Homo sapiens: one gene and its partners. Each later gene encodes a partner of the first gene's protein in a complex. Each region holds a gene or a part of one and is shown in the gene's direction. Other genes may lie near its edges.

What was found. The genes of interacting proteins can lie anywhere in the genome.
Region 2: SNRNP40 (region 1) and SRRM1 share a complex: the UniProt entries of both Homo sapiens proteins name them as parts of the minor spliceosome.
Region 3: SNRNP40 (region 1) and USP39 share a complex: the UniProt entries of both Homo sapiens proteins name them as parts of the U4/U6-U5 tri-snRNP complex.

Annotation. Positions count from the first base shown.
Region 1 is NC_000001.11:31,286,780-31,293,806, reverse strand, and holds part of SNRNP40 (U5 small nuclear ribonucleoprotein 40 kDa protein), read left to right. Parts: intron 1-458; coding exon 459-588; intron 589-1,800; coding exon 1,801-1,894; intron 1,895-4,387; coding exon 4,388-4,553; intron 4,554-7,027. UniProt on the Homo sapiens protein: Required for pre-mRNA splicing as component of the activated spliceosome. Component of the U5 small nuclear ribonucleoprotein (snRNP) complex and the U4/U6-U5 tri-snRNP complex, building blocks of the spliceosome.
Region 2 is NC_000001.11:24,660,291-24,667,317, forward strand, and holds part of SRRM1 (serine/arginine repetitive matrix protein 1), read left to right. Parts: intron 1-428; coding exon 429-509; intron 510-1,019; coding exon 1,020-1,106; intron 1,107-2,369; coding exon 2,370-2,514; intron 2,515-2,892; coding exon of another isoform or gene 2,893-2,934; intron 2,935-6,524; coding exon 6,525-6,635; intron 6,636-6,692; exon of another isoform or gene 6,693-6,797; intron 6,798-7,027. UniProt on the Homo sapiens protein: Part of pre- and post-splicing multiprotein mRNP complexes. As a component of the minor spliceosome, involved in the splicing of U12-type introns in pre-mRNAs. Involved in numerous pre-mRNA processing events.
Region 3 is NC_000002.12:85,633,175-85,640,201, forward strand, and holds part of USP39 (ubiquitin carboxyl-terminal hydrolase 39), read left to right. Parts: intron 1-2,878; coding exon 2,879-2,956; intron 2,957-4,194; coding exon 4,195-4,262; intron 4,263-6,028; coding exon 6,029-6,217; intron 6,218-7,027.

The DNA of each region.
Region 1 (7,027 bases):
ATTTTGAGACCAGCCTAGGCAACGTAGCAAGACCTCATCTCCACAAAAACTAAAAAAATTAGCATGGCATGCTAGTTCATGCCTGTAGTCCTGGCTACTCAGGAGGCTGAGGCAGGAGGATCACTTGAGCCAAGGAGTTTGAAGCTGCAGTGAACCATGATCACACTACTGCAGTCCAGCCTAGGTGACAGAGTGAGACCCTATCTCCAAAAAAAAGTTGGTCGTACAACAAGAGCTGAGAGAGTGAACAAGAGAGTCATTATAACAGGTAGATAATGGAAAGTTTCAGAGAGTGTCAAGTTGGAGGCATTCATATGAGAAGAGCTACCATTCTGTAAGTCAGATGAAACCCACTTAATCATTGTTTTCTTGGTCTTTTCCCTCCACTCCCCACCCCCTAATTTTGTAGCCTCCTTTGTCTGTATGCAGTAGTTACCTTGTGCTTCTCTTTTGTTTAGGGACCTCCAAGATGTTCCTCCCTTCAAGCCCCAATCATGCTGCTCTCTGGACATGAAGGGGAAGTCTACTGCTGCAAGTTCCACCCCAACGGATCCACCTTAGCATCTGCAGGATTTGACCGACTGATATGTGAGGCATAGTTTTTGAATCTGGAATAATTTTTCCTGCCAGATAGTGATTTTTTTTTTTAAATCTTGGGTGCCACAGAAGGTATCACTCTATGTTGGCAACATAACAGGCTGCATGGCTAATATGCTAAAATTGGGGCATGAACATGCTGAATGATCTTGGGTGTAGAACTTGGAGTCCATGGGGTAAATACAGAAGCCATTATTTTACTAGTTGGAAAGTGAGTTGTTCTGGTTTGAGAATGTCTTCCTCATAGAGGCAAATCTCCAGCTAATTTACCAAGGCACTTAGCAATCTAGACATAACAGGTTAATGGCAGTAATGAGGAGAGAAATAACTTTTATTTTCCCAAAGGTATAAGGTCCTCTTAATTCACACCCAGAATCCTAGCTAGCATATGGGAAGGAAGGAATCCTAAAGTGGTAACTCCCTTAAATAATCTACCTGTACATCATTAGGATCTACTACCAGATTTCCATTTTTGAGAAATAAGAATTTCTCATACCCATTTTTGAGAAGTAAGTAGAAAAAGTCGTTTTATTTATACTCCAGCAAATGAAGCCAGAAGGAAAAAAAATCAGATGCTTCTGTTGCTACTTTCTTGCCAGATTATGAGATGAAATGAGTTATTTGGCTCTTTTCTGTTAACTCTTTTCCTCGGTGCCGGGTGGATGATACCCGTCTTCACTGCCCATTTTGATTTGGATGTTCCGGCTCTATGATCCTTAAGCTTACTAGTGGCCAAACGTCTGGATTGCTTAGGGATCTTTGCAGAACATATATGAATTATTGATAGGCTTAATTTCATCAGACAAACTACATAGTTTTTTTTGTTTGGTTGGTCGGTTGGCTTTTTAGAGACGGAGTCTCACTCTGTCACCCAGGTTGGAGTGCCGTGGCGCGATCTCGGCTCACTGCATCCTCCGTCTCCTGGGTTCAAGTGATTCTCCTGCCTCAGTCTCCCAAGAGCTGGGATTGTAGGCGTCTGCCACTACACCTGGCTGATTTTTTTATTTTTATTAAAGATGGGGTTTCGCCGTATCAGCCACGCTGGTCTCGAACTCCTGACCTCAAGTGATCCACCCGTCTCGGCCTCCCAAAGTGCTGGGATTACAGGTGTGAGCCACCGTGCCTGACCTGAGAACTGTTGTTCTGATAAATTTATAAGTACCCTTTGCCTAGTAATGCTCACAGAACCCATCTCCCTAACAGTACTGTGGAATGTCTATGGTGACTGTGATAACTATGCCACACTGAAGGGACACAGTGGAGCAGTGATGGAATTGCATTACAACACAGATGGCAGGTGAGTATTCTGCATAATGGAAGGACAGCTTCTCATACTAATTCTTGGCGTCCTTTCACCTTTCATCCTTTCTCAGGAGACCCTGCTATCAAAAACTACTAATTTTGGGTAGCTACTTTAGTATCCGATTTATCACTGTCACCCCAAGTGAGGTGTTTATAGTCTGTGTATGCAAATATAAAGATGTTACATCGGTCATTTCAACAACCCAGACAAATTTTTCTTTTTTTAAGACATAAAATAAATGTGATTTTTATATGTAGGCTGGAGTGCAGTGACACAAACATGGCTCACTGCAGCCTCAACCTCTTGCTCGAGGGATCCTCCCACTTCAGCCTCCCAAATAGCTGGGGCCACAAGCCCACGCCTCCATGCCCAGCTAATTTTTAAAAATCATTTGTGGAGACATGGTCTTGCTATATTGCTCCTGAGCTCAAGCAGTCCACCTGCCTCAGCCTCCCAAAAATGCTGTGATTACAATAATTAACCACCATGCCTGGCCTGAAATCAGCTATTTCTATTATAAAAATCATTTCTTTTGAGAAACCAAAAAAAGCAGAAAGATGAAAAAATAGTCTATATTTCTACCACTCCAAAGATAATCAGTGTTAATTTTTTTTTTTTGAGACGGAATTTCACTCTTGTTGCCCAGGCTGGAGTGCAATGGCACGATCTCGGCTCACTGCAACCTCCGCCTCCCAGGTTCACGTGTTTCTCTTGCCTCAGCCTCCAGAATAGCTGGGATTACAGGGATGCATCACCGTGCCTGGCTAATTTTGTATTTTTTGTAGAGACTGGGTTTCTCCATGTTGGTCAGGCTGGTCTTGAACTCCCAACCGCAGGTGATCCGCCCACCTCAGCCTCCCAAAGTGCTGGGATTACAGGCATGAGCCACCGTGCCTGGCCAATCACTGTTAATTTTATACATTTTTCTAATGCCTTTTTTTCTACTCAGAACTGTTTAGTTGTTGCATATTTGTTAGAACTATGTGTACAATCTTTTTTATTTATTTATTTATTTTATTTTATTTTTTTGAGACGGAGTCTTGCTCTGTCGCCCAGTCTGGAGTGCAGTGGTGCGATCTCGGCTCACTGCAAGCTCCGTCTCCGGGGTTCACACCATTCTCCTGCCTCAGCCTCCTGAGTAGCTGGGATTACAGGTGCCCGCCACCATGCCCGGCTAATTTTTTTGTATTTTTAATAGAGATGGGGTTTCACCGTGTTAGCCAGGATGGTCTCGATCTCCTGACCTTGTGATCCGCCCGCCTTGGCCTCCCAAAATGCTGGGATTACAAGTGTGAGCCACCGCACCTGGCCAGAACTGTGTGTACAATCTTATTTGCTCCTTTTTTCTCTTAACATTGCTCAGCCAACATCTGATGTCATAAACGTCATTTTAATGACTATATTATTTTAGAATATATTATAGATAATATAGAAATCTGGCTATACAAAAGTAATTACATTGTTAGGTAGTCTGGTAAACATTCATTGTTTTACATTTCTGACCTCTAAAATCTTAGGGTGCTCCATCAATTGATACATAGCATTGTATACATTTTAAATAAAGCATTAGAAAGCTGGGCCTGGTGGCATGTGCTTATAATCCCAGCTATTTGGGAGGCTGAGGCAGGAGGATTCCTGGAGCCCAAGAGTTCAAAACCAGCCTGGGCAACACAGTGAGACTCCATCTCAAAAAAAATGAAAAAAGAAAGCATTATAAGATCAGTTATAACTTAGAAATCATCCTCAGAGGCTGGGCGTGGTTGCTTACGCCTATAACCCTAGCACTGTAGGAGGCTGAGGCAGGAAGATTGCTTGAGCCCAGTTCAAGACCAGCCTGGGCAACATAGTGAGACCTTGCCTCTACAAATGATTTTTAAAAATTAACTGAGCATGGTGGCACAGACCTGTGGTCCCAGCTACTCAGGAGGCTGAGGTGGGAGGATCACTTGAGCCCAGGAGGTCGAGGCTGCAGTGAGCCATGATTCCAACCCGGGTGACAGAGCAAGATCTCATCTCAAAAAAAAAATGAAAGAAAGAAATTGTCCTCAGAGACAAAAGAAAAACTTTGGTAAAGAGAAAAGATTGGAGTCACTCAGCTGTCAGGTCGGTACCACAGTCTGTCTGATCTCTGCAGCACCAGGGAGTTATTAAACATTTCCAAGTGAGAGGGTGTCTTATGTTTAAAATGTTAGCTATCACAAAAGAGGAAAAGATAGAGCAAACTGCTACATTAGATGTATGTCATGGGGACTCAAAGAAGGGGAATTTTTTAAACTTCACAGGGGTAGATCTTTTATCTGGGCCATCTGGGCCTAGAGGACAAATAGGATTTTGGTAGGGTGAGGCATTCCAGCATCATGGGCAAACTGGCGTAGCACAGCAGGTCAGTGATCTTGAAAAATTTGGCACCTTTTGTCAAGTAGGAAAGATAGATTGTTACTGTTTATCTTCACTTATTTCTTTTTTATTCTTTCTCTTACTTTCTAGTATGCTTTTCTCAGCATCCACAGATAAAACCGTGGCTGTGTGGGATAGTGAAACAGGTGAGAGGGTTAAAAGGCTAAAGGGACATACTTCCTTTGTGAATTCCTGTTATCCAGCCAGGAGAGGCCCTCAGCTTGTCTGCACTGGCAGTGACGATGGCACAGTTAAGGTGGGTATTGTCTCTCCGTGTTCCAGTTTCTGAGGTGATGTGATGTGAACCTTATCTTGCCTTGCCACTTGTACTCTAGCTTCCTGTGCAAAACTTAATTTTAGCAGTCATCTCCCATAACACACTTGAAATTTTTCCCCATTTAAAATAAAACATTTAATACAAGTTTTAATTACCCTACAGAATAATAATAGAACCATAGAATAAATTGTTACTTGAAATAGGCCGGGTGCTGTGGCTTACGCCTGTAATCCCAGCACTTTGGGAGGCCGAGGCGGGTGGATCACGAGGTCAAGAGATCAAGACCATCCTGGCTAACACGGTGAAACCCCGTCTCTACTAAAAATACAAAAAATAAGCCGGGCGTGATGGCGGGCACCTGTAGTTCCAGTTGCTTGGGAGGCTGAGGCAGGAGAATGGTGTGCACCCGGGAGGTGGAGCTTGCAGAGATTGCACCACTGCACTCCAGCCTGGGCGACAGAGCGAGACTCTGTCTCAAAAAAAAGAACTGTGACAGTAATATACGTGTCTTTCAAGGCTGTTATGAGTATCTCCACCAACAGGGAGGTAGCAAAAAAAAAAAAAAGGCTGTTCTGAGATTATAGACAATATATAAAAAGTTCAGTGAATAGTTTTAGTATGGCACAAGATGGGAACTTAAACATCGTTTAGTCAGATGGTTGCCAGCCTATCTTTATATCATCATCACCTGAAGAACCTGTTAAAAATACCCAAAGAATCTGGTTCAGTGGATCTGCAATGGGAATCAGATATTTTAATGTGTCCTTCAAGTGATTCAGTGTAGCCAGTCTCACATTCTGGGAGCCACTGATCTCACTGAGCATCCTCATTTTATAAATAAGGAAACTGAGGCCTAGAAATAATAATTTATCTCAGAGGCACACAAGGACACAGTACATCATAGTACCAACCATTTGATTCTCTCTTTGACACGAATTTTGGGCTCTGGTTTATATTTTAATTGTTAAACAGTGAGGGACTTCAAAAGAGTACATCTGGGAAACTACACCCCCATACTTCTTATTGCTTTTTAAATGAATTAATGAATTTGCTTTTTTTTTTTTTTCTTTGAGACAGGGTCTTGCTCTATCGCCCAGGCTGGAGTGCAGTGGCACAATCTTGGCTCACTGTAGCCTCCACCTCCCGGGTTCAAGTGATTCCCCAGCCTCAGCCTCTTGAGTAGCTGGGATTACAGGTGCACACCACCATACCTGCCTAATTTTTCTATTTTTGGTAGAGATGGGGTTTCACCATGTTGCCCAGGCTGGAGTGCAGTGGCGCAATCTCAGCTCACTGCAACCTCTACCTCCTGGGTTCAAGCAGTTCCCCTGCCTCAGCCTCCCTAGTAGCTGGGACTACAGGGACCCATACCACGCCCAGCTAGTTTTTGTATTTTCAGTAGAGGCAGGGGTTCATCATATTGGCCAGGCTGGTCTCAAACTCCTGACCTTGTGATCCGCCCCCCTCGGCCTCCCAAAGTGCTGGGATTACAGGCGTGAGCCACCACACTTGGCTGAGACGTTTTTCTACTGAGTGGTTTTCTTATACCTAATCACTTGGGGCCCCTTGATGGTTGGATGGGAGGAGAGTCTGTTGTTTAAGATTGGTTTCTAAACCAGAGCTCTGACCTAGATGTCACTGTAGTTGGAGAGTCTTAACAGTAGCTGATTTACTAATTGTCATTTCAGAAGATAGTAAGAGGTGGAAATGCCCCAGTGAATTTTGTTAACATTATTATTGAGGGCCTGCTGTAATAAATATCTAGGAACTATTTAGGTAGTAGAAAAAGAGTATATGTCCTTTCTGTCTGCCTTCTTTTGGTTTTTTGCTTCTCTTCTGCCTTAATTAAACATGATTTGGAATAGTTATTTTTACCTTATTACTCAAGTTAATACTTTTTTTAATAAGCAGTATGTCACATCACCTAAAGATGACTGCTTTTTAACCAGCTCCTATTTTTAATGTCAGTATATTTATATTTAAGGCATCATTAAACAGCTTTTTGCAATGTACTTTTCAGTTACTTGTGAAGTTGGAATGCTTTGTGTTCTTGTATTTTTGTTACTAGGTTGCAAGTACAGGAATTGAATAACTTCAGTTTAAGAGGAAAAAAAGTCATGTTGCTTTTTACATGTCAGAGTTCTTAACAGAAAGCAAAGGTTTCCAACAGCACTTGCATTTTTAGTCTAAAAGCATTCTGGGCATTATTCATACAGATCGTTTTCAAACTTTTTATCAAGTGCATTCTTCTAATAAAATTAAGTGAAATACTGCGTGTATGTGTGTATGTACTCATATATATATAAATTTCCCTTTCATGAGCAGTTCAGTCCTAAAGCCAGTTATATAGGCCAAAGCAGGGAAGGTGCTCTAGTTAGAGATGGGCCAAGGTGGCCCAGAGTAGAGTGTCAGAGCACAAGTGTGGTAAGGAGAGCATCCACACTGGGCAGGGC
Region 2 (7,027 bases), 6.6 Mb from region 1:
TTCCTTTAACTGTTGGTTTTCTTGGGAGAATCTCAAGATTTGAAAATCATTGTAGAACTTTTTGAGGCTTTTCATTAAACATTTAAAAATTCTTGTCTCACTTCAGATAATGTTCAGATATGACAACAAGGTCTTACAGGAATTTTTTAAGTCTTCATAAATTCTTTTTGAGAGTAGTCACACCCATTTTTGTAATAGCAGGAAGGCATCTTGGCTGGGCACAGTGGCTTGTGCCTGTAATCCCAACACTTTGGGAGGCTCAGGCAGGAGGATTGCTTGAGGTCAGGAGTTCAAGACTAGCCTGACTAATATAGTGAGACCCCATCTTTATTTAAAAATAATAATAAATTTTTAAAAATTAAAAGAAAAGCATCTTGTATAGACCTTTTTTTGTACGTAAGCTTTTTTCCACTCTTATTCTTTTTTAGTGACAAAACATAAAGGTACTGAGAAAAGAGAATCCCCTTCACCAGCACCGAAGCCTAGAAAAGTAGAGTTATCTGAATCGGGTAAGTTTGTTGTTTTTTTTTGTGATTTTGGTTTGTTTGTTTTTGTTTTTCTTAAAGCTGATTTTGATTTTTTGCACATTTGGTCATCCCCTTCTGCTTGAAGATTAAGTATAGGGTAAGAGCTAAGACTCTGAAGGCAGACAGACTTGGGTGGAATCCCCCATTCCAGAATTTAACTGTTTCTGTTTTAATTAACTTATCTGAGCCTTTCTTCTTTCATCTCCGAAATAGGGACAGTAGAGGTTTTTGACAGTTAACTGTATCTGCTTGTAAAATGCTTGGCACCAGCCTGACCTGTAGTAAATGCCTAAATAAATTTTATTATATTTGGTGAAGATAGTCTAAATCAGCCTGTGAATTGGCATTTTAAACTCTTTTTAAAAAAAATATATAGTAGTTGTATTTTTGATCCAACCAAATGAAGGTTTGAGAGACTATTTTCCTATTCAAATTGCAAATTTTCTATATGCTTAACTAAAGAAACACTTTCTAAATGCATCCATCTTTCAGAAGAAGATAAAGGTGGCAAAATGGCTGCAGCAGATTCTGTGCAGCAGAGACGCCAATACAGACGACAAAACCAGCAGTCTTCATCTGGTATGGATGGTGATGAAAGTTTTTTTTCTACCTGTATTTCCTATTAAAAAATACTTGGTATATAAACATCTGTGTGTGCAGCATGAGTACTTACTTGCCTACATAGAAATCTGTCTGAGGAGGCAGGATTGTTTCTTTTTTTGGTTTTAAGTCCTTTTGCAAAATTTAATTTTCTGTTACATTGTTATAAAAGTAATAGGTCCCTAGGATACAATAGTGAAACAGAAAACAGAAGTATAAAATTGGAAACGTATCATTCTTTTTCCAACCTCCTAAAGCTTTTATTCAGAAATTTTCTGTGCATATAGAAAAAGGAAAAGAAAAAACCCCACAGAAGCTCAACTGTAGATATGTTGCCTCACTTTTTAACTTAACAGTATATTTAGAACATCTTTCCCTATTAAAAATCTAGACTGGGCGCAGTGGCTCACACCTGTAGTCCCAGCACTTTGGGAGGCCGAGGTGAGCAGGCCGAGATCAGGAGTTCAAGACCATCCTGGCCAATAGGGCGAAACCCCATCTCTACGAAAAATACAAAAATTAACCGGGCATAGTGGCGCACACCTGTAATCCCAGTTACTTGGGAGGCCCAGGCAGGAGAATCCCTTGAACCCAGGAGGCAGAGGTTGCAGTGAGTGAGCTGAGATCGCGCCACTGCACTCCAGCCTGGGAGCCTGGGCAACAGAGCAAGGCTTTGTTTCCACAAAAAAAATAATAATAATCTACCCTATTATTTTACTATTTGCATTTTTTATTGTAAGAATATACCAGGCTGGGTATGGTGGCTTAACCTGTAACCCCAACACTTTGGGAGGCTGAGGTAGATGGATCACTTGAGGTCAGGAGTTCGAGACCAGCCTGGCCAACATGGCAAAACCTTGTCTCAACTAAAAATACAAAGATTAGTTAGGCATGATGGTGCAGACCTGTAATCCCAGCTACTCAGGAGGCACAAGCGGTCTTTCTGCCTTGGCCTCCCAAATGCTGGGGTTAAAGGGGTGAGCCACCGTGCCCAGCTCAAACTTCTTAGAGTATGCCATCTTGATTGGATTACACTGTGGAAATTATTTCTATGTCTTATTTAAATAATATGCTTGGCTTTGAAATCATTGATCATATATTGATAATGATTCTGTTCAGAACTGATGGCCTGTATACATGCTTGCTTACCCTAGTGAACACTCCATCCACCTAGATTTCAGAAAACTTGGACAGATTCAAGCACAAACCTAATGTAATATTTTTTTAATTTTGTAATTATAGACTCTGGCTCCTCCTCCTCCTCAGAAGATGAACGACCCAAGAGATCCCATGTGAAGAATGGTGAGGTTGGCAGGCGGCGGAGACATTCCCCTTCCCGGAGTGCTTCTCCATCACCACGAAAGCGCCAAAAAGAGACTTCCCCTCGGTAACATCTTTGCTTCAGTGATGTTCACTGATGTTCTGTAATTGTGATGAAATTTGATAACTTGGGATTATTTGAGAATTTGGTTAACTCCTTCAAGTATTTGGATGTGGTTGGATTTTTGTTTGCTTTTTAGGGTTTCTGTTTTGTTTTGTTTTTGCTTTATTGGTGGTTATTAATAATTAATTTAGAATTGGTAAATTTTAAACCACCATGTCATATATGTGTGCATGATTAGAAAAATAAACCAAACTATTATAGCAGTAACTCCTGAACATCTTTGAATATTTAAAAATGTCTCCATTAATGGTACTTAATCCACCCAAGTAAATAATTTAGTGAATGGAATTCTTGACATTTGTTTTTCTCCACTGCTCTCAGGATGCAGATGGGAAAGCGATGGCAATCGCCAGTGACTAAAAGGTTGGTTAGACACTACTTTGTAAATTAGGGTTACATGTCAAAAATTGTAGTGACTTAATTTCCTATTTAGGTGACCTCATCTCATTCTTAAATATATGGTGGCTGTGGCTGTGAATGTGCAGATCCTAAGTTGTTTTGGTTTGAGTATTTTTTTTAACACATTAGATTAATGATAGGGAGAATTATACATGAGCTATTTGGTTTAGACCCTTATTTGAACTTAGATTTTTAATATCTGGTTGTGCTCTTTTGTGATAATTTGCATCAACTTACATCAAGCAGCACGCAGATTTTTAACAGTATCTGGATACTTTTCCAGAGATAGGATTATTGCTCCTTAGATTTGGGGGGAGGGACTTTGTATTTGTGGTGACATTAGGGAGGGCAAGGAAAAACTAGGGAGAAACTTTAGAAATATTAAAAGTGAGAGGATCACGAGGTCAGGAGATCAAGACCATCCTGGCCAACATGGTGAAACCCCATTTCTACTAAAAATACAAAAATTAGCTGGGAGTGTTGGCGCGTGCCTGTAATCCCAGCTACTCGGAAGGCTGAGGCAGGAGAATCGCTTGAACCCAGGAGGCGGAGGTTGCAATGAGCTGAGATCACGCCACTGTACTCCAGCCTGGCAACAGAGCTAAATTCCCTCTCAAAAATAATAATAATAATAATAATAATAATAATAATAATAAATAAAAGCGAATGGAAGGCTTTGGCCCTGTTCAGTCTTTCCAGTACTAGAAAGGTGGGTTGCATAGCTCTCTTTTTTTTTTTTTTTTTTTTTTTGTTGAGATGGAGTCTGGCTCTATCACCCAGGCTGGGGTGCATTGGTGCGACCTCGGCTCACTGCAACTTCTGCTTTGTAGGTTCAAACGATTCTCCTGCCTCAGCCTCCTGAGTAGCTGGGACTACAGGCACATGCCACCATGCCCAGCTAATTTTTGTATTTTTAGTAGAGAAGGGATTTCGCCATGTTGGCCAGGATGGTCTCAAACTCCTAAAGTCAGGTGATCCACCCGCCTCGGCCTCCCAAAGTGTTGGGATTACAGGCATGAGCCACTGGGCCCGACCTGCATATCTTTATTGAAACTTTTGATTATTAGTGTCACTGTGACCATAAAACTGTAAAATTTTAGAGCCAAATCCCTAATTCAGGCCTTACTCTCATAAGTGAGAAGATAGCGGCCCTGATGGGGTAGTTTCTTAGGGCCGCAAAGTGACAAAGTTGGATCTTAGACCTATACATTTGGCATTACACTAGTCTGTCTTAACCAGCTTTCTGCTTTTGGGGCCTTAGCTGCCACTGAATTTTGAAGTATTTATCCTTGCTGAAGCTATCCCACTGTCCTTTTTGTAGCTCAGTTTTTGAAGCTGTGTTGTTTTAGGTAATCTCATCAATAAGAGTGTTTTCTTGGAAAGGAACCAGTGAGCAGTGTTTGTGATGGAGCAAAGCACGGGGTATTTACACTGTGGAGGAAACTGCTCCATGATAATAAAAGATAAAAACCTAAAAAAGATTAGTTTGGCTGCTAAAGCATTCCTTTCCCAGCTATAATTATCTCTGGCTTTTGTGAAGTTGCTAGCACAGCAACTAAACAATTGCTTTACAGAGTTAGATTAGTGGTGCAATTTCTTCTCTTTCATCTCCCCTTCCCTCCCCACCCCCCCACCAAATTATGGCACTACTTTCTGTTCTGGAAAGAGATTCCTCACAGCAGTAAAATCAACACTAATGTTTATTGCTCTACTCCAGGATGTTTTTGTTTTGTTTCTCGTCATTTAAAAAGTATTTTAAGTTATATACCAGCAGCTTCAAGTTTAATGCCATTAGAAATTGCCATCAGGTTCCTAGGATTTAGAGATGGAGGAAGGATTATTTGGAATTATGCTTCAGTATCGTATTTTAGAAGGGGAGATAGAGGCCGGGTGCGGTGGCTCATGCCTGTAATCTCAGCACTTTGGGAGGCTGAGTTGGGTGGATCACCTGAGATCAGACGTTTGAGACCAGCCTGGCCAACACGACGGAACCCCATCTCTACTAAAAATACAAAAAAGTTAGCCGGGCGTGGTGGCGCATGCCTGTAGTCCCAGCTACTCGGGAGGCTCAGGCAGGAGAATCGTTTGAATCCGGGAGGTGGAGGTTGCAGTGAGCCGATATCGTGCCATTGCACTCCAGCCTGGGCAACAAGAGCAAAACTCCGTCTCAAAAAAAAAAAAAGAGGCTCACGCCTGTAATCCCAGCACTTTGGGAGGCCGAGGCGGGTGGTTCACGAGGTCAGGAGATAAAGACCATCCTGGCTAACACGGTGAAACCCCGTCTCTACTAAAAATACAAAAAATTAGCTGGGTGTGGTGGCGGGCACCTGTAGTCCCAGCTACTTGGGAGGCTGAGGCAGGAGAATGGTGTGAACCCAGGAGGCAGAGCTTGCAGTAAGCCCAGATCGTGCCAGTGCACTCCAGCCTGGGCAACAGAGCGAGACTCTGTCTCAAGAAAAGAAGGGGAGATAGAGCCTGGTTTTGAATATTTTATATGTATTTAGTGTGAGGTCTTAGTCCCCACAAAGCATAAGCAGATTTAAGTTGAAAAATTTAGTGGTGACTTTTAGGATTTTGTCTGTTCAGTTAACAGAGATTTCTTAGTTTCTAACGGGAACCAAGACAAAACATAATTCCAGATTCACAGGAAGCATGAGTCCTGTCCTGGGCAAAAAAAATTAAGAGCTTGGAGCAGAGACGTCCAGACTTGGGTCTTAAGCCACTTGTGACTATTGGCATTTTTGAATTTCTGTATTAGAGTCTCTAAAGCAGTTGATTCCTAATAAGGAATTAGAATCACCTGGAGAGCCTTTCCCAAAAACACCTGGCTGGACCTTAGCCCAGACCTGGTAGGCATAAATCTCACATAAGCTTCCTAGGTGGTTCTAATGTGCATCCCCAATAAAAAGCAGTGCTCTTATGTGCTGTTGCCGAACTTTTTCACTCTGTGTCATGTCAAGAATGTTTGGTATTGTGATCCAGAGTAAAAGAAAAATTTCACAAAACGGTACTTACCCTTGTCACAAGTAAAACACTCTGGTTTTATTAAGTTTTTTAATGCTGCCACCCAGGGTCTTGACTGATGATCTTGACCTGTAGTTTGAAAAACACTGTTCTGAAACTTAGTAACCATTGCTGCCCTTGGGGTTAATGATAATTGAAACCGTGTCTTCTGGGTCACTTAACTATAAATGCCACTGACTCAAAGTTAACTATATAGGCCAGGCGTGGTAACTCACACCTATAATCCCAGCACTTTGGGAGGCTGAGGCAGGCAGATCACCTGAGGTCAGGAGTTCAAGACCAGCTTGGCCAACATGGTGAAACTCCGTCTCTACAAAAATATTTTAAAAAATTAGCCAGGCATGATTATGGGTGCCTGTAATCCCAACTACTCAGGAGGCTGAGGGGGGAGAATTGCTTGAACCTGGGAGGCGGAGGTTGCAGTGAGCCAAGATCATGCCATTGCACTCCAGCCTGGGCGACAGAGTGAGACGCCATCACACACACACAAAAAAAAGAAAAAAAATTAACTATAATTCTTCTTGGTTTAGTGGTAGACGGAGGAGAAGTCCATCCCCACCACCCACCAGAAGGCGACGGTCTCCTTCTCCCGCCCCTCCTCCTCGACGGCGCAGGACTCCCACACCACCACCACGACGAAGGTACTTTGTCAAATATGCTAACTGGAGCATCTCCCCAACTCCCCCCGCCCCTGATAACATCAGATGAGTAATGGTGCTCACTTCCTAACAAGGTTGGAGAGAGGCACAGCTCATGTGTGCATGTGAAAACCCAATCATCATGCTTATGAACTACAAAAGGATCTCTGAATCTTTCTGATGATTATATCTTATTAGAGTAAGCAGACTAGCATTGTTCAGCCAGTCATAAAAGAACACGTATGATTCCATCTATATGAAAAGTCTAGAATACACAAATCTATAGAGATAGAAAACAGATTAGGGTGGGGTGGACATGGGGATGGTAATAGCTGCAGAACTATATGAATATACTAAAATCATTTAATTGTATACTTTAAATGGACCTTAAATGG
Region 3 (7,027 bases), on another chromosome or scaffold:
CAGTGGTGTGATCTCGGCTCACTGCAACCTCTGTCTCCCCAGTTCAAGCTATTCTGCCGCCTCAGCCTCCCGAGTAGCTGGGACTACAGGCACCCACCACCATACCTGGCTAATTTTTTGGTATTTTTAGTAGAGACGGAGTTTCACCACGTTGGTCAGGCTGGTATCGAACTCCTCACCTCAGGTGATCCACCCGCCTCGGCCTCCCAAAGTGCTGGGATTACAGGTGTGAACCACCATGCCCGGCCTCATTGAAGGCTTTTAACAAAGATGTGACATCAGACTTATGAATTTGTTTTTAAAACATTATTCCAGCTGGGCATGGTCACTCAAACCTGTAATCCCACCACTTTGGGAGATCAAGGTGGGTGGATTGCTTGAGCCCAGGAGTTAGAGACCATCCTGCGTGACATAGACCCTATATCTACAAAAAATTTTTAAAAATTACCCAGGCATGGTGGCATGTACCTGTAGTCCAGCTACTTGAGAGGCTGAGGTTGGAGGATCGCTTGGGCCTAGGAGGTAGAGGCTTCAGTGAGCCATGTTGGTCCCACTGTACTCCAGCCTGGACAACAGAGTGAGACCTCTGTCTGTAAAATAAAAAGAAAAACATTATTCTGGCTGAGGATTGACTTAGAGGGGACGTCGAGTAGTGGCTTTTTTTTTTTTTTTTTTTTTTTTGAGACAGAGTCTCGCTCTGTTGCCCAGGCTGGAGTGCAGTGGCGGGATCTCGGCTCACTGCAAGCTCCGCCTCCCGGGTTCACGCCATTCTCCTGCCTCAGCCTCCCAAGTAGCTGGGACTACAGGCGCCCGCCACTACGCCCGGCTAATTTTTTGTATTTTTAGTAGAGACGGGGTTTCACCGTTTTAGCCGGGATGGTCTCGATCTCCTGACCTCGTGATCCGTCCGCCTCGGCCTCCCAAAGTGCTGGGATTACAGGCGTGAGCCACCACGCCCGGCCGAGTAGTGGCTTTTAAGAGTCTCTGGTACTTAAGGAGAAATAGGAGGAATCAAGGTGGTAAGGAATGGGGCCCATGGAGCACTTGTTTCAGGGTTAGTAGGAAATAAGATACACTTCGGGTTGGTTACAACATGGCCAATGAAATCTTAATCTGGGGCCAGGCGCGCTGGCTCATGCCTGTAATCCCAGCACTTTGGGAGGCCGAAGTGGGAGGATTGCTTGAGCCCAAGAGTTCAAGACCAGCTTGAGGAACATAGTGAGACTCCCTCTCGACAAAAAATGTAAAAGTTAGCCGGGCATGATGGCACACGCCTGTAGTCCCAGCTACTTGGGAAACTGAGGTGGAAGGATTCCTTGGGCCTGGGAGGCAGAGCTTGCAGTGAGCTGAAGTTGCATCACTGCACTCCAGCCTGGGTGACAGAGTGAGACGCTGTGTCGCGAAGAAAAAATCTGGGTGCCTCACCCTTCTAAACAGGTGACAGCCTGTTTGTGTGCTTTGTAGGACCATCTAATTCCCAAGAACTAGGTGGCTAGGTTATCTTGTGTTTATAGAGACATTTCTGTTTCTGGACCAACTCCCTGAGCTCCCAGGGTTTTATATTAAGGCTGCAAGAAAGGAAGAAATTTGTGTTGAGAATGATTTTTTTGTGGACCATGAATGGATGGATGAGTGTCAGCATTCACTGTGTTCCACAGGTGACTTATGGCCTGAAGGTGGATAGTGGGGCCTGTCAGCTTTTGGCAGCTTGGAAAGTTAGGGCATAATTGGGTTGTAGAGTTGCAGAAAAACCAGGGTACCCTGAGAATCAACGTGTCTAGTTTCTTCTGTCATAGCCACTATTGGCTAGGATAGTTATGATGTCACATAAACATAATTTCCTCCATCTCTGAGACCTAGTAGGTTATTAGTTGCCGAGTGTTTAGATGTGTGAAGTGTTTCTTGCTGTGGTAGTTTGTTACATAAGAGCATTCTGTGTACAGGGAATAAAAAGAAAATCATTCTATGGAGTTGTTAGAGGCCTCTGGGTTTAGGGAAATGAAGTTGAGGAAGATATACTATAGTCTTTGAGATTTTAATTGCGTGAGCAAAGAGGAACTAAATAGAAGCAAATCTTCGTTGAAGAGAAAGTAGTCATTATCTGGCTGGGCGCAGTGGCTCATGCCTGTAATCCCAGTACTTTGGGAGGCTGAGGCGGGAGGATCACTTGAGGTCAAGAGTTCGAGACCGGCCTGGCCAACATGGTGAAGCCCCGTCTCTACTAAAAATACAAAAATTAGCTGGGCATGGTAGCAGGCACCTGTAATCCCAGCTACTCAGGAGACTGAGGTGGGAGAATCGCTTGAACCCAGGAGGCGGAGGTTGCAGTGAGCTGAGATCATGCCACTGCACTCCAGCCTGGGCGACAGAGTGAGACTCTGTCTCAAAAAAAAAAGTAGCCACTATCCCTGAAATGTCTGAGTGGCAGGTTCCGTAGACAGCATTTTCATGGAATATTGTCAATCTGCTTTCAGAACCCCTTGTTCTGTATGCCTTTTCAGTCTGGGTGCTAGTCACTTTCCTAAAAGACAGGAATCTTCATGAGCTGCAGAAGGGAAGAAGGAAGTTTGAGCTCACTCTGGAGAAAAGTGGATGTTAAAAGGTCATATTCATTTGTTTTGGTCATCACTGAGTGATGCGATACAGTCCTGGTATGAATCAGAGAGCCTATGGAGAGAGTCAAGATCGGAGGAGTGAGAGCTTGACCTTGAGGAGTGCCAGCATTTAATGATAAGATAGAGGAGGATGCACGGCAGTTGGGATGGGATGGCATGGCCAGAGAGGAAGGGGGAGAACCAGGAATGCCAACCAGTGCATGGTTTAAGTTAACTCTAATGCCACTTAGCTTCAACGTTTTCCACCCTTCCTTTTTTTCCAGGAGATGGCGTTGACTTTCTGTCTTGGTTTCTGAATGCTCTGCACTCAGCTCTGGGGGGCACAAAGAAGAAAAAGAAGAGTAAGTCATTTACTTATAAAAAGGAGTTATTTTGTTCCCTTTTAAAAAACTTTGCGGTCGGTCGCAATGGCTCATGCCTATAATCCCAGCTCTTTGAGAGGCCGAGGTGGGTGGATTACCTGAGGTCAGGAGTTTGAGACCGGCCTGGCCAACATGGCGAAACCCCATCTCTACCAAAAATACAAAAGTTATTCAGGTGTGGTGGGATGTGCCTGTAGTCCCAGCGACTTGGGAGGCTGAGGCAACTTCCCATTCTTTTGTTAACTGTTTATCTGGGGTAGGCTAGTATCTATGTTATAGATAAACTACATGTTCTTTCTGAATAGGCCCCTCTCCATAGTTTTTGCTAGAATATGGTTATAGTCCCAATGATATTTTATTATATATATATTTTGAGACAGAGTCTTGCTCTGTCACCTAGGCTATGCAGTGGCACGGTCTCAGCTCACTGTAGCCTCCATCTCCCAGGTTCAAGCAGTTCTTCTCCCTCAGTCTCCCAAGGGTAGCTGGGATTACAGGCACCCACTACCACGCCCAGCTGATTTTTGTATTTTTAGTAGAGATGGGATTTCTCCATGTTGGCCAGGCTGGTCTCAAACTCCTGACCTCAGGTGATCTGCCCAAAGTGCTAGGATTATAGATGTGATGGTGTCTTGATGTGGGATTGTGGCCTGTTGCTTTTCCCACTGGATGGCCCTGCCCTCTCTACCAGGTGTCTTCAGCCTGTGTTAACCCTCTGAGCTCTCTAACTTGCGTCTTGGCAGGGTTCTAGAACTTGGTTGTGCTTTCTCTCTTGTTGCTTTGATCCTGTTCTGGCCCATCTCTTAGTCTGTCATTGTCCTCTTGTCTTCATTACAGTTTGGACATTGTCTCCCTTTGAAAGTAGCTTATGGTTATGGGAAGTTCCTTGGCTGTACCTTGTTTTGCTTGTGAATTTTTTTGTAATTCATGTATCACCATTCCTTCATTTTGAACACATTTACCTTTTCTTTTATGGACCAGGCCCTGTGATGGAGGATAAAAAGTTGTCTTAAGAGAAATAAAGTAATTATTTACACAAATAATTATAAAGGTACCCTGGTGGTATATAGTACAAAAGGAAACTTCTGTGTTTAGTGAGAGCTCTGTGTCTTTTGCTGGAAGATGCTGGTTTATTTCAGAAATTTAGAAGCTGGAAATATACTTCAGACATGTTTTCCATCCTCACGGAATTTGTCTCTTGCTTCCTGTTTGTGCAGCTATTGTGACTGATGTTTTCCAGGGGTCCATGAGGATCTTCACTAAAAAGCTTCCCCATCCTGATCTGGTGAGTTAATTGAGCCTGGGTCTTGGACTGATTCATATTGCTTGAGGGGACGTAGGGGAGATGAAGAGATGCTCAGAGAACTGACAAGCCTGCTTGCCCTGTGAAGAGGTTCAACAAAGCACCTGCCTAGTGGCAGCTCTGCCTGGTCCCTGTCATACTAGTGCACTTTTTCAGTTTGGGAGTTAGTGGTTGGATGTACTGTGCTGGTTTAAGTGTTCTGGCCACTAGGTGGTGCTGCTGTGTTTTTTCAGAAAGCTCAGCTAAGCTTTCTTTTTGTTTTTCTTAGTCTCCCTCTGTCGCCAAGGCTGGAGTTGCAGTGGCGCCATCTCAGCTCACTGCAACCTCTACCTCCTGGGTTCAAGCGATTCTCCTGCCTTAGCCTCCTGAGTGGCTGTGATTACAGGCGCTTGCCACCACGCCCAGCTAATTTTGTATTTTTAGTTGTGACGGGGCTTCACCATGTTGGTCCAGGCTGGTCTCGAACTCCTGACCTCAGGTGATCTACCTGCCTCGGCCTCCCAAAGTGCTGGGATTACAGGCGTGAGTCACCGTGCCTGGCCCTCAGCTAAGCTTCCTAGATGGTCTTAGAGCTTTTCTTTTTTGAGATGGAGTTTTGCTCTTGTTGACCAGTCTGGAGTGCAATGGCATGATCTCAGCTCACTGCAACCTCCACCTCCCAGGTTCAAACCATTCTCCTGCCTCAGCCTCCGAAGTAGCTGGGATTACAGGCATGCGCCACTATGCCTGGCTAATTTTTCTATTTTTAGTAGAGAAGAGGTTTTACCATGTTGGTCAGGATGGTCTCAAACTCCTGACCTTAGGTGATCCACCTCCCTTGGCCTCCCAAAGTGCTGGGATTACAGACATGAGCCACCGTGCTCGGCCCACTTTCTTTTTTTAATGGATTTTTTTTCCTTTTTGAGACAAGATCTCTGTCACTCAGGCTGAGTGTGGTGGCGTGATTATGGTTCACTGCAACCTCAACCTCCCTTGCTGAAGTGATCCTCCCACCTCAACCTCCCCAGAAACTGGGACCATAGATACACACCACCACACCGGGCTAATTTTTATTTTTATTTTTGTTTAATTTAATTAATTAATTAATTTATTTATTTTATTGAGACGGAGTTTCACTCTTGTTGCCCAGGCTGGAGTGCAATGGCACTATCTCGGCTCACCGCAACCTCCGCCTCCCGAGTTCAGGTGATTCTCCTGCCTCAGCCTCCCGAGTAGCTAGGATTACAGGCGCCACCACCACGCCCGGCTTATTTTGTATTTTTAGTAGAGACGGGGTTTCTCCGTGTTGGTCACGTTGGTCTTGGACTCCTGACCTCAGGTGATCTACCTGCCTCGGCCTCCCAAAGTGCTGGGATTACAGGTGTGAGCCATCATGCCCGGCCAATTTTTTTTTTTTTTTGTAGAGATGGAGTCTCACTGTGTTGCCCAGGCTGGTCTGGAAGTCCTGGACTCAAGCAGTCCTCTCACCTTTGTTCCCAAAGTGTTGAGATTACAGCCGTGAGCCATCACACTTGGCCTCAGGGCTTTTTAGATAGTCTGGTATATAAGCAAAATATCTTTAAAGAAGGAAACCTGTTGGTTCTTAAGTTAATCTAACCAGGTGGTGCATGCCAAACTGCCCAATCTCTCGGGCACTTCTCTTTGTTCTTTCAGATGAAGGAAATGTCGGCGTGGTAAAACATCGGTTCTGTGTTGGTTCCTATACCCGTCACACTCCTTTCCTCTCTTTTCTTCTCATTCATTTCTAGCCAGCAGAAGAAAAAGAGCAGTTGCTCCATAATGACGAGTACCAGGAGACAATGGTGGAGTCCACTTTTATGTACCTGACGCTGGACCTTCCTACTGCCCCCCTCTACAAGGACGAGAAGGAGCAGCTCATCATTCCCCAAGTGCCACTCTTCAACATCCTGGCTAAGTTCAATGGCATCACTGAGAAGGTAGCCCATTAACACACCTGCCCTGCCTATACTTACCCTCGCTCTCTCGACTTTTTCATTTTCTTTTTTTTTTTTTTTTCAAGACAGAGTTTTGCTCTTGTCGCCCAGGCTGGAGTGCAGTGGCGTGATTTCGGCTGACTGCAATCTCTACCTCCCAGTTTCAAGCGATTCTCCTGCCTCAGCCTTCCTAGTAGCTGGGATTACAGACATCCGCCACCATGACTGGCTAATTTTTTATATTTTTAGTAGAGACAGCATGTTGGCCAGGTTGGTCTCGAACTCTTGACCTCAAGTGATCAGCCTGCCTCGCCTCCCAAAGTGCTGGGATTACAGGCGTGGGCCACCACACCTGGCCCATTTTCATTTTATATGTAAGAATCACCACATGTATGTGACGTATTTATTATAAATTATATTGACTTTATTGAGCCTCCCAGACTCGTTGGTATTTCTCACTGGTCACCCCCAACTCTTAACTTATAGTGCCCCTTTTTATTATTTTTTGAGACAGGGTCTAGCTTTATCACCTAGTCTGGGTGATCATGGTGGCGTGATCATGGCTCACTGCAGCCTCAAACTCCTGGGCTCAAGTGATCCTCTCACCTCAGCATCCTAAGTAGCTGGGACTAGACACACTCCACCACATCCAACTAAGTATTTTTGTAGAGAGAGTGCTCACTTTGTTGCCCAGGCCATTCTTTAACTCCTGGCCTCAAGGGATCCTCCCACCTCGACCTCCCAAAGTGTTGGGATTACAGATGTGAACCACTGCCCAACCACAGTGCCCCCTCTTGTACTTCTCATATATCC